3 separate regions of the Homo sapiens genome follow, and regions 2 and 3 are each reported to be linked to region 1. Evidence: microRNA targets listed by miRTarBase, many of them from high-throughput screens and not tested one by one. Region 1 holds a microRNA gene; each other region holds the end of a gene's coding sequence.
What was found. The annotated mature microRNA hsa-miR-6764-5p reads UCCCAGGGUCUGGUCAGAGUUG and lies in region 1 at 2,706-2,727, shown strand. An mRNA with a match to its seed (bases 2 to 7 or 8) in the 3' UTR can be bound and repressed. Matches are read on the target gene's strand: a 7mer-m8 pairs with bases 2 to 8, a 7mer-A1 pairs with bases 2 to 7 and ends in A, and an 8mer does both.

Region 2: miRTarBase lists NYAP2 as a target of hsa-miR-6764-5p. The part of its 3' UTR that is shown has no 7-base or 8-base seed match.
Region 3: miRTarBase lists GPN1 as a target of hsa-miR-6764-5p. Seed matches in the 3' UTR shown: 7mer-m8 at 1,748-1,754.

The regions. Positions count from the first base shown.
Region 1 is chr14:100,274,657-100,278,656 of GRCh38, forward strand. MIR6764 (microRNA 6764) reads left to right here and starts at 2,701; the gene lies at 2,701-2,761. It overlaps YY1 (YY1 transcription factor), which reads left to right. Exons shown (of 5, transcript NM_003403.5): 3 at 42-102; 4 at 1,834-1,992; 5 at 2,762-4,000. The coding sequence ends at 2,944. It also overlaps a transcript of SLC25A29 not described here. RefSeq lists an enhancer at 3,677-4,000.
Region 2 is chr2:225,697,709-225,702,068 of GRCh38, reverse strand. It overlaps NYAP2 (neuronal tyrosine-phosphorylated phosphoinositide-3-kinase adaptor 2), which reads right to left. Exons shown (of 8, transcript NM_001371273.1): 8 at 1-3,752. The coding sequence ends at 3,525. All of the region lies in intron 5 of LOC105373914 (a long non-coding RNA gene), which reads left to right. Among named protein-coding and RNA genes, the nearest start is that of NYAP2, 300 kb to the right of the region's middle.
Region 3 is chr2:27,649,557-27,653,916 of GRCh38, forward strand. GPN1 (GPN-loop GTPase 1) reads left to right here. Exons shown (of 14, transcript NM_007266.4): 14 at 559-1,955. The coding sequence ends at 644. It overlaps SUPT7L (SPT7 like, STAGA complex subunit gamma), which reads right to left. Exons shown (of 6, transcript NM_014860.3): 6 at 1,253-4,191. The coding sequence ends at 3,929. Among named protein-coding and RNA genes, the nearest start is that of SUPT7L, 12 kb to the right of the region's middle. RefSeq lists an enhancer at 3,051-4,250.

The DNA.
Region 1 (4,000 bases):
ACTCCTACAAATCTGTCTGTCTCTCTTTTTCTTTTGATAAGAATGAAGCCAAGAAAAATTAAAGAAGATGATGCTCCAAGAACAATAGCTTGCCCTCATAAAGTAAGTAATGCTAGAGGGAGAGTGTTCATTAAACTGTTGATGAAGTTTTAGAGAGTTATAAGAAATTTGCACTTTTGTTTCTGCTTGTGATAATTTAAATGAAGCAAGGAATTAGAATCTTCGGTTTCTAAATCCAAGAGATGAAGTTTTGTTATTTAGTAAAGGCAACTTTTTAAATACTGTTAAATGGGATGACTGCAGGGAGCCGTTGCTTGATTACTGTGTGTTGACTCTACTGTTAGCGTTTCATTTCTTTTTGGATTATATTAACAAGTCCGTCTTAAGATCCTGGGTTGTGTCTCACCTATTGACCTTTATGGGAATGTAGGCTTGTAACTGAAATTTGAAAATTATTTTGGATGTTGCTAAAATAAGCCAAATAAAGACTTAATAATTGTGTGTGATTAGAGAGGCACTTAATTGTTTTCAAATGTAGTTAGTCTTTAAAATAAAAGGATAACCTGAAAAGTACTTTTGAGATATTTGTTGGGGGCTATTTTCAAACTTAATTGGATATGAGACTAACAGAAAAATCAAGTATCACATAGGTACAGAGAACAAAGTAGGAGAGATTGAGTGGAATAAAGAATGTTAAAAATGAACAATCGGAGCAGGCTACATTTAGTTTCACGGTCTCTTCCCTGTAATGACTGTGCACTAGCAAGTCCTTCCTGTTCTTTGTCAGCGTTCTTGATGTGGCGATTTGAAATGTAAACGTATCTCCATTAGGGCCGAAATAACAAGCATTTGAAAACAGTTAGGCTGGAAGTGCCTATGCCATCCCTTTAGCTTCTCTGAAGTTTTCTTTATAATGGACACATAATACTTGTACATATTTATGGGGTACCGTGTGATGTTTCAATGCATGTATACATTGTGTACCAGTTAAATTTTTTAAATTTCCATTTTCTAAATGGAAATTCAACCTAGGGGTAAAGGCGGAAAAACTGGGGCTTCCCTCTCCCTTCTGCCTGTGAGCTGTCTAGTGACTTGTGCTGTCCTTCTGTCATGCTGTCTTATCATTTCCCCATTCACTCCATTACTGGGCAACAACTGCAGAAGAAATTGTTGAGGACATGCTTCTCGAGCGCCACACATCCATCTGCCTTTCCCGCCCTGCACTGGTATCAATTTGCCTGCTTCTTCCTTTTCCTAGTGTCTCACAAAATAAATTTCTTCTGTAGTTGCCATTCCTTGGAGACCCTCTTGCTTCTTTCTCTGTCAAGAAGGGGAAAGAGGCAAAGAGAGAAGAGGGAACAGTAGGCGATGGAGAATGACAGTCCATTGTTGCAGCACAGAATATGGGGCCACCAAAGGTAGTGGTGGACTACCGTCATTTTAACTCCATTTGCTTAGCAGTGCTTCTGTTACTTCATTTTGGGGGACATAGTCGGGTGAGGTGGCTGTGGTAGAGCTGGAAGCCAGGGTGTTGGGTTCTATTCCCAGTTTGGCTACTACTAGTAGTGTGACCTTGGGCAAGTCTACTTAAAGACATCTCTAAGCCTCAGTTTCCTCATCTGTAAAACTAGGGTTTGCATTGAATGATGACTTTTTCAGCTGTCTGCTTTTTGTCTTAAATGATATTAATGTTCTACCGTAATACTAAGTAAAATTAAAATGGGGGGTTGGGGAGGTGGTTTTGTTTTAATATGTCAGTAAAGGCTGTTAAATGGTTGAATCCTTTCTAACAGTTTGCAATGTGAACTTCTAAGCTGCTTTCTCTGTTTTAAGGGCTGCACAAAGATGTTCAGGGATAACTCGGCCATGAGAAAACATCTGCACACCCACGGTCCCAGAGTCCACGTCTGTGCAGAATGTGGCAAAGCTTTTGTTGAGAGTTCAAAACTAAAACGACACCAACTGGTTCATACTGGAGAGAAGCCCTTTCAGGTAGAGCCAGTTCCCTCTCTTCCCCACACTGCCTTGCCTGTCTGAACACTGCAAGTGTAGGTGGTGTGGTGATGAGGCAGGAGGCGCCAGCCCAGAGACTCAGGGTCTTATTACTCCTTGGTGAGAAACAAAACTTCTCCTGGGGAGTCGCTTAGAAGGGTTGCCGGGGCTCTGGACATCCTTGTCTATACTCTGTGGTACTGGGTACGCAATGTATTGGTGTTGATGGAGTACACTTTATGGCAGGAGGAGAACAGGATTGAAGAGCATACCTAAAACTCAATTTCTACTTCATTCATTACAGGATTGAAGTAATTTATTTTTGGTAGTTAATAGTATAATTACTAACTGATAAAGTTTCTAGAGTGTAAGTATAGGTAATACTTTAGCCCATAAATAAGTGAAAGAACTAGCAGTGCAGCTAGTAAATCTAACGTGGTTCTTTTTTGACAACTGACACCAGAACCCTTAATCATTTGTATTTTACTGTTGGAAATGTTTACAGCAGCACTAGGACTCTAGCCTGCATTTAGGAAGACTTGCCATTTTGCCAAGTGTTTTAAACAGTTCGTGAGGGCTCTCCTTGGGTTTTCGGGGTTGTCCAACCTGCCTGCTGATTCTAGACTATATCCACAAAGTTCACCCAGGGCAGGAATGAAAAGTGTTTGGTAAAATAAATAGGCTGTTCTCTAGCAAAGCAGTGAGCTCCTGACTCCCAGGGTCTGGTCAGAGTTGCTGAGTGGGTTGATCTCTGGTCTTTCCTTGACAGTGCACGTTCGAAGGCTGTGGGAAACGCTTTTCACTGGACTTCAATTTGCGCACACATGTGCGAATCCATACCGGAGACAGGCCCTATGTGTGCCCCTTCGATGGTTGTAATAAGAAGTTTGCTCAGTCAACTAACCTGAAATCTCACATCTTAACACATGCTAAGGCCAAAAACAACCAGTGAAAAGAAGAGAGAAGACCCTTCTCGACCACGGGAAGCATCTTCCAGAAGTGTGATTGGGAATAAATATGCCTCTCCTTTGTATATTATTTCTAGGAAGAATTTTAAAAATGAATCCTACACACCTAAGGGACATGTTTTGATAAAGTAGTAAAAATTAAAAAAAAAAAACTTTACTAAGATGACATTGCTAAGATGCTCTATCTTGCTCTGTAATCTCGTTTCAAAAACACAGTGTTTTTGTAAAGTGTGGTCCCAACAGGAGGACAATTCATGAACTTCGCATCAAAAGACAATTCTTTATACAACAGTGCTAAAAATGGGACTTCTTTTCACATTCTTATAAATATGAAGCTCACCTGTTGCTTACAATTTTTTTAATTTTGTATTTTCCAAGTGTGCATATTGTACACTTTTTTGGGGATATGCTTAGTAATGCTACGTGTGATTTTTCTGGAGGTTGATAACTTTGCTTGCAGTAGATTTTCTTTAAAAGAATGGGCAGTTACATGCATACTTCAAAAGTATTTTCCTGTAAAAAAAAAAAAGTTATATAGGTTTTGTTTGCTATCTTAATTTTGGTTGTATTCTTTGATGTTAACACATTTTGTATAATTGTATCGTATAGCTGTATTGAATCATGTAGTATCAAATATTAGATGTGATTTAATAGTGTTAATCAATTTAAACCCATTTTAGTCACTTTTTTTTTCCAAAAAAATACTGCCAGATGCTGATGTTCAGTGTAATTTCTTTGCCTGTTCAGTTACAGAAAGTGGTGCTCAGTTGTAGAATGTATTGTACCTTTTAACACCTGATGTGTACATCCCATGTAACAGAAAGGGCAACAATAAAATAGCAATCCTAAAGCAAGAATATGGCAGAACAAGATCTGTAAGCACAGTCTTATTTTCTTTTGTTGTCCAGAATACTTATAATTCTTGAGCCTCCCAGAAATTGGAAGCTAAATAAAGCAACTCAAGTTTCCTTTATTTTGCACTCAATTACAGTGATTATTGATGAAAGCGATGCATGGATATTTTAATACTTCCTACATGT
Region 2 (4,360 bases), not on the chromosome of region 1:
GTGTAGTTATTTTACAAGCTCTTTTCTACTTGTCTTAACATGGAAGTGATATTAAAATTGCATTTGTACGTGCATTGTGTTGATGTCTTATTTTATTAGTTAAAATAATAACCCAATGGCTTTAGTTTTATTGACGTAGTCACTAGATTTGCTCAAAAGAATCAAACTAAATTCCATGTATAGGCAAGACCTACCAACAAAATGTAGTAATAAAAACATTCTTTTATTCTCTAGAAGCATTCAAAGAAAATTTTGTCACTACTTTGGAAAGTAAAGTTGTATCTAGTTGTCTCCAGACAATTGGCATGTATTTGAATATATAATACTTTAAAACTACAAATTTAAATCTCCGGACGTTTTGTTTTACTTTTCTAATTATTTTACATGGGTGAGTATTAACCTTCATTTACATAAATCCATCACATTTGGCGCCAAGCTTGCTTCAGTAGCATAAACATGGGAGAGATGTGAGCGGTGTTTATGTAATAGACTACTCTTATACCTCAGAGGATGCTGGCTTCTGCGATTGAAATAAATGCAGATTTTTATATTTTCTTTTCATCAATTCTAAAGAAATTTATATCTTCTCTGCTAAGGAGTGTTTCACATATAAAAGCATCTTGTGACATCCAATAAAATTCTGTTTCTATGAAATTTGCTGTGAAAGGACCATTTTTCATAAGTATGAGCTCTTTCAACCTGATAACCAGGCCATGATATGATTTGTTCTTTGGCACTGCTAGAAATATGAGCTTTATCATGGCATAGTGTTCTGGCTATCTGTAGGCTATATTCTGACCAAATTAATATATTGAAGTATCCCAGTTGATTACTTTCAGAGAGTCAGCTTATTTTTCTCTACATACTAATGATCTCCTTTTCTCCATTTAGAGAAACACTACACAAAAAGGAAATTGATCATGGAATGATTATTGCCACAGTGGACAATCGTATAGGCACAGAATAACAGTTCTTGAGTCAAATCTCAGTGAAGCCACTTTTCCAGATCTTTCAGTCACTTTCCACTTAAGTAGAGATTTGCGGAAATAAATGAAAATGGTTGCCTAAGGTCAAATTTTCAAACAAGTTACCGCCTCAGAAAATAATGCATTTGAAAAAGGAGTGCATGAAACCTGGCCCTAGCATAAGTTTGATAGAACAAACAGGAATGGTTTAATCCAACACAGATCATTTTAGTACTTTTGTTTCCTTCTTGACAAATGGCCAACATTAAATAAACTTTCTGCCTAAATCAGAGTGATATGGGAAAGATACGCATCTGAAAAACACACTTGCATCTCCCCACAGAAAGATGTTCCCTAAATATAAATTTTAAGGGAGGGTTAATCATCACCATACTGAGCCTGAATATATACGTAATCATAGACATGCTGAGAATTAGTATCTTGTGTCTGACTGATAGGCTTGAGTATATGTGGTCATAATAACTTAAATCAGGATAACAACTTGGGTCATAAACACATTTTATTTCCATTCTGATTTTATCTAAACACATTTTCATCACCCTTAGATTTGTGCTTCATAGATTATTTGGTTTGAAACATAATCTATAGCTGGTGAAACATGCTGGCGGGTTTTATTTAAGCTACTTAAGATCCCTTCCTAATTTCCTGCATTTGTGATCCCGGTTTTCTACCACCTCAATTATACAAGCAGAACCTGCAACTTCAGTAAGCGTTTTATGTATACAGTTCTCCCACTGAGTATTCGTTCATGTACACACACACTCACACACACACACATGCACGCACGCTCACAGACACACCAACCATACACTGCTCCCACTTACCTTTTTCCTTATTTTTTCAGAATTTGAATTGGACATCAAAATACACATTAATTATAAAACATTAGAAAATCATGTTATAACATTGAAAAGGCTTTTGAAAGAAACTATTACTGATAAAGCATTACTAGGTTTGTAGCAATATAGATTACAAAGATTCTCTAACTCCTGTTATATTTGGTTTTATTGAGCAGCACTGAACTATTGCTGTCAATACCCTTACAAGAAAAACTGCTATAACAATAACTTCAAAAACACATCTTTTCTCTCAGAAATATAATACTAAATTGATTGTTAACAAAGAACCACATACTATCAATTTTAGGAGGCATAAATAGTAATTTAAATATACAAAATATATGCGATAGTTTCTTTTTTATTCATTCGTGGCAATATTTATATTCAACTAACAAGTTCTTCTTAAAAGATATATATGATTTTTTTAACTTAAATTTCACCACTACATAAAATTGAATCCACCCCATCCCTCATCCCCTGCATTTCCTGTCTCTTTCTTGAAACAAAATGAAATGAAACATGATCATAATTCTTTGGTCATGGTGTCATAATCAGTAAGAATGGGTGTGATGATCACATACAGAAGATTATGACCCAGAAATGTGGTGATAACCAGTTTGAAAAAATTAACAAGAAATACATATTTTATTAATAGATCTAAACTTTTAGAAAGATTGGCATTTAGTGTATTAAAATATGTAAACTGGTCTAGTTGAATGTTTATTTCTCATTTTCTTGGGGAAACAAGCATACACATGAAAAGTTACTTAAATATAGTGATTATGGTGGCTACAATGCCACTGGTCCCACTTTCTTGAAAGCAGTCATGCTCTTGAGCTATTAATTCCTTGTTCCTTCCATTGTCACAGTGAACCCTGGTCTCCTCCAATCAGATCAATGATGCAAGGACACATGTCCCTAAAGTCATTTCTGAAGGAAATGTTTTCTGCTGGGATGTCCAATATATCCTAGTAACTTTCTCTGGAGTCTGACTAACCATTGCTTAGTTATTACTAAGTCAGACTAATGGTTAGCCTAACCATTGCCAGAGGATGCTAAAGAGAAATTCTTATAAAGCCAATGTAGCAAAAATATTGTTGTCAATGTAACTTGGACGTCCAAATTAAGCATCACATTTGCATTCATTTCCTGTCAAACCCTTGAAACTTAAAAAGCACAGATGCTCTTAACAAATATGATATTCAACTTCTACGTTACTAGCACCAGATCATATATTACGTGATTGAACATGATTTATAGTTGTGAGCTCTTGTACAGAAACCAAATGTGGGCAAGGGAAAAAAAACATTTTAAATGCAAAAATTAATAATAAAAGGCATCAAGGGATTACATATAAAAGAGATAACAAACCAGTTAATACTGAAATTATATCATATAGTAAACTCTTGATATTTCTGTAATTTATATACGTATAATGTGTATTATTTCAGATGTCACCCATAAACTAGTAAAATATTTACATTTTAATATCTTCTGGATTCAAAATAATCCGGGATAAATAAGTGTGCCTTCATTGCAAGGACATATGCATTTTATCTTGAACTTGCCACGAATAGGCACAGCTTCCCGTGGCATTCCACTCCCACAGAAAAGATATGTAACAGTTCATTATCATATGACCGAGTCGACCTCCCTCTTCATATTAAGAAATGTAGAGCTCACACCATCCTGCACACACTCATATGGCAGTATCCCAGAATACCGTTTGCTGTTTAGAATACGGTGGAGGGCTGTACTTCTTGGCACCTGCATTCTTCTTCCAGCTGGGCAAGATAGGCATGCTATCCTGTTTGCAAAGGCCCTTTTCCGTTTTCTGTCTAGCCTTTATTTCCTTGCACAAGCAACGCTTTTTCTCAATCATCTCAAGCATTGTATGGTCTCCATGAAACCACTGCATGCATGCCACCTAGCAAAAAAGAAAGAGTGAATACAGAAGAAAAAAATGGAATGAAAGCATATTTCTTTTGCACTGTGCTAGTAGTTTCTTAGAACAATGTCAGCTGTTTCTATATCTCTTCTAAAATTCTTTTTAGTTTTGTCTTGTTTTAGACAAGGTCTCACCCTCACCCAGGCTAAGAATACGATGATGCAATCACAGCTCACAGCAGCCTCAACCTCCTGGGCTCAAGTGATCCTCCCACCTCAGTCTCCCCAGTAGTTGGGACTACAAGCATATACCACCATGCCCAGCTAATTTTTTAAAAAAAATTTTGGTAGAGATGAGGTCTCTCTATATTGCCCAGTGTGGTCTCAAACTCATGGGTTCAAGCAATTCTCCCGCCTCAGCCTCCCAAAGTGCTGGGACTACAGATGTGAGCTACTATGCCCAGTCCAAAAACTCTGAAGATAAATTAAGAAATAATTCTTACAAAACAAAAATAAAAGAATGGAAACTATAAACAAATTTTGTACTTAAATTAGTAAACATCGCGATATTTAACAATTTGGGCATGAATATTTTTCAATATGTTCTGAAAGTTCATGATATGAAAATTAAATCTTTTACACTTTTAA
Region 3 (4,360 bases), not on the chromosome of region 1:
CCTGGCAACCACTGACTGATTTCTGTTCCTTTGATCTTGCCTTTTCCAGAATGCCATAGAAATAGAATCACAGTATTTAGCCTTTTGCATTTGACTTTTTTGACTCAGTAGTGTAGTCTCTCCATGTTGTTGCATGTATCAGTATGTTCTTTTTTATTGCTGAGTGATATTCCATTATTGTGGATGTTCCACAGTTTGTTTATCCATTCCCCAGTGGACTGATATTTGGGTAGATTTTAGCTATTATGAGTAAAGCAACTATAAACGTTTCCAAATAGATCTTTGTGTAGACGTATGTTTTCATTTCTCTTGGTTAAAAATACCTACAAGTGGGACCTTATTTTAGCTACTATGAGGGAGGTATTCTTTCTACTTATAAAGAAACTACATTTTGGGCAGCATGATAGAGCATGCTTCTAGGAGACATTTCCTTTTTGAGGGAAGTGAGTACTTAAGTTTCTTAGAAGTAATGTACTGTTTTCTGATGGATGGGTGACGGGCTCTAATCAGTTTGTCTAATGAAAGAGTTGAAAAAGAATTGCCCTTTTTTCCTTGCAGTTACAGAGGAAAGCCATGAAGAGCCAGCATTCCAGAATTTTATGCAAGAATCGATGGCACAATACTGGAAGAGAAACAATAAATAGGAGACTTTAGCACACTTCACTTGTTTCTAGAAGTCCAGAATTTTGGACCTCCACGTGAAAGAACTGTTCTTACCTCTGAACTGGGGGCTCCCATAAGGGATAATTTTCCTCAGAGTAGCAAAGTTTCTCTTATTAGAGAAATCTTGTGACTCAGATGAAGTCAGGGATAGAAGACCCTTGGACCTGGCAGGTTAATGCTGATTATTCCTTGGCCTTTCCCTTGTATTTATGCAAGGAAGGATATACTGAGCTGATACTCTTCCAAGCCTACAACTTCAAGTTTTATCATTTGAACTCAAGTACTTTTGCTGCTGAGGAATGGAATCAAAAGAACGTAGTCTCCTGGTGACCACCTCAGATCTCTATTATTAGGCTAGATGTATAGCCTCTACTCCCCCAGCTTCTTGCTCTTGACCCTGCACTGTAAGTTGCCCTTCTATTAGCAGCCAAGGAAAAGGGAAACATGAGCTTATCCAGAACGGTGGCAGAGTCTCCTTGGCAATCAACCAACGTTGCTATGAAATATGCCTCACACTGTATAGCTCATTATAGGACGTCAGGTTTGTTGAAAAAAGTGGGCAAGACATGATTAATGAATCAGAATCCTGTTTCATTGGTGACTTGGATAAAGACTTTTTAATTTTAACTTTGTTCTAAGACTGCTTGTCATGATTTCAAATTAGAAAATTATATAATTGCAAACAGCTTCACTTCTCCTGTTCAACAGAGGCTTAAGGCCAGATGTCCAAACTTGTCTCAATAAGGAGGTGATATTTTACTAAAGTTTCCCACGTGCACATACTGACTAAATACAGAGCTAGGCCCAGTTTGTATTGTACTCTGAACTTAATGCAAAGTCTCCTTGGTGATTTTCGCAAAGTCCGTGGATTTGGGTCAGAGGCACATTTCATACATAACAGCCCTTATAAACGTTTGCCCTGCCTCCACATTTTACAGTATCTTAAAACAGTACATTTCTTTCAAAGAATTTTATCTCTATGAGTCAGTACTCCAACTTAGTGGTTCTCACATTGTGGACCAGGAGCATCAGCATCATCTGGGGAATTGTTCAACTTACCTCTTATAACCTATGAACTCAGAAACCCTGGGGGTGGGCTGAGCAGTCTGTTTTAGAAAGCCCTCCATGTGATTCTGATGCATAGTAGCCTATGACATAATTCCAGACCAGGTGAATCTCAAGATACTAATCCTCACATCATTTGCCTTCTCATATTTCCCTCGTCTTGACCATCTGGTGCCTGTTATGCAGTTTAACATTCTGCAGCAATAAAAGTGTTTTATTATAAAGTATTAATTTTAATGTTCTATACTTAGTGGGAACCACTGGTCTCAAAATTTGAAGCTATTCTTTAAGAGGAGAACATTCGCAAAACTCAAGCATACTTGGTTTTTCTCTGTAGTACTTTTGAATGCTTTATCTTCCTTACAGAATAACTTGTCTTCCTTATGCTTCAAGCTCCAAAAGGGTAAGGAAGAAGTCTTAATCATTTTTGTATTCCTTGCACAGGACCTAGCAAATAATTGGTACTCAATGTTTGCTGGATGAATGAACTAAATTCCCATACGGCCACTTTATGGAAACTAACTGCCTAATCGCCACTTTCATTATAAACAAAGGAAAATGAAGATAAGACTGCAACAGAGGCCAGGTGCAGTGGCTCACGCCTGTAATCCCAGCACTTTGGGAGCCCGAGGCGGGCAGATCACTTGAGGTCAGGAGTTTTGAGACCAGCCTGGCCAACACGGTGAAACCTCATCTCTACTAAAAATGCAAAAATTAGCTGGGTGTGGTGGCATGTGCGTGTAATCCCAGCTACTCAGGTGGCTGAGGCAGGAGAATCGCTTGAACCTGGGAGGCAGAGGTTGCAGTGAGTCGAAATTGCACCATTGCACTCCAGCCTGGGTGACAGAGCAAGACTCCATCTCAAAAATAAATAAATAAATAAATAAATTAAAAAAAAGACTGTGACAGAAAGGGTTTAGAGAAATGTGCTAAAGAGTTACAATTGGCAAATTTAAAATTATATGTTAAACTATAACCTCATTTGTATCATATTCATTTATTCTCAATACCTGGGACATTTAAGGCATTCAATAATGAATTAAAGCTGTGCCTTATTTTGGTCTGCATTAAAGGAGTGGTCTAAATTTTACAAGATATATTTTGCATCAGAAAATCAAACTTCAGCAGTTTAACATGCTGGCATCCATCACCAAGGCATGAAGCAACACATTTGCTAATGATTCCTAATCACTACAGTGCTACATCATTTACTTAATAAATACTGATTCAGTACTTATATATACAGATAGTCTGATGGATGAGTAACCACAGTGATGTTGTTCAGGACATGATGTAAAGTTGAAAGGTGCATATTGCTATGTTTTAAAGGCTGCCTTTACAGTAGAAGCAGCAAAGTGTGCTTAATGGACTGCTGTCCTCTGATGACCAAGCAAATGCAACAAATGAAATATGCACAAGGCTGTCCTTGGACAGTACTTGTTTGCTTTGCTCACAAAGGAGAAAAGGAAAGAAACAATTGAAAATATGTATATGGTGAAAGTATGTGAGTCCGAGCAGAAATAACAAAGGCAAAAGGATGAGGAGAGATGGAGTAAGTCTAGAGAAGAAAATAAATGGATGAGATAGAGAGCTGTCTAAGCAAAAAAGGTGTCAGACCTCTGATCTTATAAATAAGACACTTCAAAAGTAGCAAAAACAGTTTTAAGAAGGTGACTAATAGATAAGGTGTGTTGTGTTTAGCTATTTCCTGTTAGGTATTAGTAATGGGTTCCCAATGACCTGAGCCAAAAATGAATCAAGTTAAATGAAAACTGACATCTGATATGAGCATATATTATTAGTCTATTCAAGCACAGTTTTGAAGTTAGCAAACATCTAAATCCTCACATCTCTACAAGGTAGGTCAAAGTATGATTCTTCTCAGTTGTACAAGATAAATGGCTGTATAACATGTCTAGTCATAGTTAAGACAACAATTGGGGACAGTGCTTTGGTCTGATTGCCATGCCAGCATCATATTTTATCTGTGAAGGGTGGCTTGGTTGTGGAAAACTATAAAAACTGGATGCAAAAGTAAAATGCAACCTTGTTTGGTGACGTCCAGTTCCTCTGGAATTAGGAAAAACCACTTGTGTTTAAGAACAGGAGTCAAATCAATTTTTAAGGAAACAGATTCTAATACAAAAACCTTTTCTGTTGGGTCTAGTAGGTCTGGACAAAACATCTCCCTCTTTTCCTTTTATATTTTCCTCATCCTCTTCTTGCAGCGCTGGTTGAAAACAGGGGAGGACCCCATGAGGCTGTCAGTGGAGTGGGAACCATAGCTGCTATCTGAGTCATCAGGGCTCTGAGGAATCCCAGCTTCACTCATGCCTGACATAGGCTCCTCGAAGACATCACTGCCCAGCACACCATGCCCAGAGACATTGCCTTCTTCACTTTCTTGAGGCTCCATTTTCACATGGGCCAGATTCCAAAGAGGAGAAGCATTTACCTCTGCACCTAGAAACAGAGGAAAGATGGACATACACCAAGTGTATATGTGTAGCCAAGTGTAGAACAAAGAGTAAATATATCACTCAGAACCAACTAATATGCTTTGAGCTCAGTTTTCACTCTGATTCTGTACTTGGCTGGAGAATATGGTTGTTACTCTCTGCTTCAAAAAGTT